Regions from separate parts of the Homo sapiens genome. Here region 1 is linked to region 2. A link means that fine-mapping ties the variant in region 2 to the expression of a gene that starts in the linked region. Tissue or cell type: whole blood. Region 2 holds a variant in brackets; the other region holds the start of a gene. All regions are shown on one strand. Distances are from middle to middle.

Region 1 (2,765 bases), 63 kb before region 2:
CAAACTATTTCTCGAACTCCCAATGCTTCACTAATTCAAAGTCTTAGGCCAGTACGTCGCTTCCCTCAGATCTACTAGCCCAGCAAAAACTGATTGCCCAAATCTTCCTCTAAGCTTCCCAGACCTTACAACTGCAGCACTTCCATTCACCAAACCGTATTTATAGTCATCTCTCAATCTTTAGAGCCTATGGTCACTCTGTAAATTCTTCAGTTCTCTCCTTCTTCTCTCTCCCTTATCCTGTCCAGCTTCTCACTCTGTAAATTCTTCAGTCCTCTCCTTCTTCTCTCTCCCTTATCCTGTCCAGCTTCTCAGCACATTCCTACTACCCTTAACAATCTTCGTGGCTATGTTCTCCACCTTACCTTAGGCCTACTCCCTAAACTTTCTCATTCTCCCTTAAGAGACCTAATCTCACCTCTCATTCGCTGAATCTGTCTTTACACCTCTGGGAATTCTCTAGAATCGTCTGCTTCCTAGTTCTCCTCTTTCCTTCTCCAGCCCTGTCTCGAGTGTTTTCTACCCCCCTCAGCTTTTCTAGTATCTAGTTCTCACAGTGCAGATATTAGAACTCTGATAATATCTACTCCTCCCAAACCTTTCCTTAGTTGTTGGCCCAATTCCCCTCAACTTTTCTCTCAGTCATTCCCCACTTCCCTCCACCTTCCCTGGCCGATTCTCCTCCACCTTTGTCACCGTTCTACTCCCTTTTCTAAGCCTCCTTTATTGTGGAAGTGATTCTCAGATCCCTTATGTTAGTCTCTCAGCTTCCCCAACCTTTGCCTCATTCCCCTCTCCCTTCAACAACGTTATTTTTCCTCCAATTTCTATTGACTTGGCGCCTCCCCTAGTACCCCAATCTGCCTTCTACTCCATCTAAATATCTCCAGGCCGCCAACATTTTCTCCTATCAGTAGACTCCTTTCCCGTGCCTCTATGAACGCCCAGAGATACCATTCTCCAACGGCTGGGGCCTGGCCCATAGGGAGAAGGGGTATGGGTCACGTACCCCATTCGCATCTTGGCTCCGCTCTGACTGCCCCCGCTGCCGGGTAGAGGTGGGCGAGAGGGAAGGCGGCCGAGGTGCATGCTCTTTTCGAGGGCCGACATCGAGGGGAGGCTGCACGCACGTAGTCAAACAGTAGGCGAAGCTTCGTCCCACGTTGAGTGTGGCCCAACCGGTCACGACTCGCTCCCCTAACGACGCCCTGTCGCCTTTGGACAGCACCCAGCTACCCGTAGCACCGCCTACCGCCCACCGGCTCCGTAAACTCCACCCACTCGCTTCAGCGCTTCCACCGGAAGTGCGCAACAGCACTCATACAAAGGAAGCTGGGTAACAGAGTATGAGAACTCCGCAGACTCCCGGCTGGGAACCCGACGACTTTCACCGGAAGGAGGAGCGCTCTTCAGGGCAATGCACCCTGCGCAATGGAGTCCACAAAGGGCGCATCCCTATGCGCTTGCGCAGCTGGAGGCGCCCCCCAGCCAACCCCGGAGAGGTATTGTAGCAAAGCGTCCTGGGTATTGTAGTGTATTGGAGGGAAGGCGTCTTGGCGCCTTCTCTTCGCACCGTTTTCCGGAGACTGTTAGAGGAAGAGTCGCTTTTTCCTGCCTCCCAGGCTGCCCAGCGGCGCCGGTTGCCGGGGAACGCAGGCGCCGTGGGGAGGGATGGCGGGAGGATACTGCTTAGGTGCTGGAGACGGAGTTGAGCTGGTGAAGAAGAGCTCGGGCTCATCATGAAACAACGAAAAGGCCAAGGGTCTGGGGGCAGCCGTGGGCGCAAAAAAAGAGGTAACCTGAGCGATCAAAGATTGAGGAAAGCGTAATAGGAGAGCAGGGTGTAAGGAATTTTAGGGAGACCCGCACCCCCGCTGGATAAACAAGAAAAGGGACGTAAGAAGGAAGTAGCCAGGGAACCAGAAGGTTAAAAGGAAGGGCAATTGGCCCTCCAGAGAATAGAAAGGAATTAGGGGCTGGGGTAGGGGCCACAGACAGGCGATTAATGAGATGAAGGTTACCGGTAGGATGACTGTAGAGGAGAAGAACAAACAATGATGGGATTGGTTTTGATAACGAAGTGAAATGTATGTGTGTGTGTAGCTTTCGAGGTCCACAGGGACAGGAAGAAACATAAATTGGCAAAGGGATTATATCATTTGTTGTGTGATTGTGGGCAAGAATCACGTTTTATACATTACTGAATGACCAAGGATTAGTACAAAGCAGGACTCGGTAAATGTTAGTTGAATGAATGAAGTATGAAGGGCTGACTATGAGCAGGAGTTGGGAAAAATAATTGTAGAGTATAGAGCCGGGAAGAGTGGGGAATGACAGGTGTGATAGGATTGGAGTGGGGGTAAGGGCATGACGATCTCCTGAAGGACCTGAGATCATGAAAGAGTGTGCAGCAGAGAGTCCTCATCAGGTTAGCAGCTCAAGGAGACACAAGCTCACCGAGTAGGGGATGTTAGCTGCAGTGAGAACAGTCAACCTAGGAACCCAGGGCAGATCAGGAAACTTGACATTGAATCTCTACAAGACTGCCTCGAAGGGAAAAAGGACAGTGGGTGACCCTGCCTTTTTGCATTGTAGGCAGTTTAGCGAGAAAAGAAGTATTGGGAACAGTGATAGGACATTAGGCCATTGGGTTGAGGACTGAAGCTACAATCTGGGAATTACTCTTATCCAAGCTGTTTAAAGATTACTAAGGCAGTTTTGAGATACTGACTTTCCTGCCAGGAAAGATAGGAGGATCTGAGACT
Region 2 (2,765 bases):
CCTCATTGTTCCACCTCCAACCAGCCCCCTTCTTTTAGTATACTACCTACAAACTAGTCTTTTAAAAACAGTGCTATTACCTAAAACCCAGTGAAGTATATAGATATGTCTCCTTACACATCCAGTACTCATATGATTGACATTCATTTCTCATGGCAAAGCGGAGCAACATAGCACTGCCTGTCTTCTGTGTACTATCTCCAGAGTTTTCTCTTTGTCCCTGCTCATTCAATCCTACAACCCTAGCACTTTCTGTGAAAGCACACTGACTCGATTTCTGCAGGAGATTTTAATTAAATTTGAAAGGGAGGCAGGTGGTATCAAGGCATGAATTGATGATGACTTCAGTTGGGTGGTGTGACATGTCTGTGTGTCTGGTTCTCCTTACAGAGGTGAAGTTCCAGCAGCGATTTGTGTTTCCAGTACAGTTTGGTGGCCCAATGATAGAGCACTGGTGGAATTCCAACCTCACTTTCCAAATTTATGTAAAGAAAACTCCACAGAAAAAGGTACTTTGAGTGATTTTGGCCTTTGCCTTACCTTCACACTAGGGATTTGGAGGATACCTAAAATTATATTCTTACCTAAACTAGGAATCTTCAGGTGCAGGCAGTACTAATAATCCATTGTTATTATTATTATTATTATTATTATCATTATTATTATTACTACTACTAATCTCTGCTGTTTGTCATGGGCCAGATATAATACTAAAGGCTCTACACGAGCACACTATCAATTTTAATCACCACAACTCTGTGAATTAGGTACATTATTATATTTGTTTTACAGATGAAGAAACTGAGATTTAGTTAACATGTCTAAGATCACTCAATCTAATGAAAGAGCCAGGACACCATCCCAAATCTGCTGTCTTTAGATCTCAAGTTCTTAACCTCTTTATTGTGCTGTTCCCTTCTAAAGAAAGGTAGCTATATTGATACAGGCTATTAGCCTTAATTTGAGGTTCTACTTCCTGTTTGCAGGCAGAATACATAAGGTATCCAAGCCCAAAATAATATAGTTGTGAGTAGCAGTTTTGATCAACTAATTCCAAGTTTATAAAATTGCTTGCAGCTGGCATAATGTAAATCAATAAACTATAACAAGCAGTTTTTACTTCCTTCAATAAAAGAGTAGTCTTTATAATCTTTTGACCTCTTATTTGGTATGGATAGCATGAAGAACATCTTGTTTTCTTTTATTTTTTTCAGAAGACATATACAATACAGGTCCTTTTTGAAAAATTATAGCAAAATAGGAATGGTGGGAAAGGCACATCATTTCATAACCTCAAGATAAACTCTATTAACATTTCAATGTATTTACATTGAATCATTTTCCTATACCTAATTAATGGCATTTTTTTTCTTTTCTTTTTTTTTTTTTTTT[G/TG]ACACAGAGTCTCGCTTTGTCGCCCAGGCTGGAGTGTAGTGGCGCGATCTCAGCTCACTGCAAGCTCTGCCTCCCGGGTTCACGCCATTCTCCTGCCTCAGCCTCCCGAGTAGCTGGGATTACAGGCTCCCACCACCACACCTGGCTAATTTTTTTGTATTTTGAGTAGAGACGGGGTTTCACCATGTTAGCCAGGATGGTCTCGATCTCCTGACCTTGTGATCTGCCCACCTCGGCCTCCCAAAGTGCTGGGATTACAGGCGTGAGCCACCATGCCCGGCCGGCATTTTTTTTCTAATTATAAAAGAGTTTTACGTATTTTTGTAGAAAACTTGAAAAATAATTTTTAAAAGGCAAAAATTGCCTGTAATTCTGTCACCAAGAAATAACTATTGTTAACATTTATGACTATCTGCATTGTCTTTTTCCAATGAATACAGTATGTTGTATAATTTTGTATGTAGGTTTTATTCTTCCTTTTTATCATTTAGCATCTTGAGGGTTTTTATTCATTTTTCTTCAAAAATATCTATTTAATGTTTTTCACATAATTTTGTATTTGAAGGTTTATGATATATATGAGTTAATACCCTTTTATCAAACATTATAACAGTTAATATTATTAGAAACTTTTAGTAAATGTCATTTTAATGGCTACATGTTATGCCATCATATGGATGTGCTATATAATTAGCTTAATAATTCCTGATTATTGGACAACTAGGTATATCTCATTGTTAACTACTTTTAACATATACATATTTGTGTATAAGCTTTTTATGCATTGTTTCTTATTTCTGTGTGTGTGTGTGTGTGTGTGTGTGTGTGACACAGTTTCATTCTTGTTGCCCAGGCTGGAGTGCAATGGCATGGTCTCAGCTTACTGCAACCTCAGCCTCCTGGGTTCGAGCGATTCTCCTGCCTCAGCCTCCTGAGTAGCTGGGATTACAGGCACCCGCCACCATGCCCAGCTAATTTTTTTGTATTTTTAGTAGAGACGGGGGTTTCACCATGTTGGCCAGGCTGGTCTTGAACTCCTGACCTGAGGTGATCTGCCTGCCTCAGCCTCCCAAAGTGCTGGGATTACAGGCATGGGCCACCGCGCCCAGCCTATTTATTATTTCTTTAGTACAAATTCCCAGAAATGGAATTACTGGGCCAAAGAGCATAAATATTTAAAGCTTTTAATATCTGTTACCAAATTTGCCATCCAAAAGCATATTGCCAGTTTATATTTCCAGCTTTACGCATATGACAGCCTCTTGTTTCTCCATAGCCTTGATAGCATTAGATATATTAAATTTTACAATTTCCCTAGTTTTAATAGCAAAAATTTGTGACATCTAAATTTTATTTTTTATTTTTAATAGTGA

The links. PIP is the estimated chance that this variant, and not a neighbour inherited with it, causes the effect.
Region 1: it holds the start of C2CD3, and the variant in region 2 is fine-mapped to the expression of C2CD3 in whole blood (INTERVAL, PIP 0.95).

The regions. Positions count from the first base shown.
Region 1 is chr11:74,169,767-74,172,531 of GRCh38, reverse strand. It overlaps C2CD3 (C2 domain containing 3 centriole elongation regulator), which reads left to right and starts at 1,530. Exons shown (of 33, transcript NM_001286577.2): 1 at 1,530-1,794. The coding sequence starts at 1,740. It overlaps PPME1 (protein phosphatase methylesterase 1), which reads right to left and starts at 1,243. Exons shown (of 14, transcript NM_016147.3): 1 at 1,010-1,243. The coding sequence starts at 1,110. RefSeq lists enhancers at 449-1,371, 1,149-1,598, 1,372-2,295.
Region 2 is chr11:74,106,778-74,109,542 of GRCh38, reverse strand. C2CD3 (C2 domain containing 3 centriole elongation regulator) reads left to right here. Exons shown (of 33, transcript NM_001286577.2): 12 at 391-509. Among named protein-coding and RNA genes, the nearest start is that of C2CD3, 63 kb to the left of the region's middle. The variant G/TG (reference allele first, on the strand shown) is at 1,393.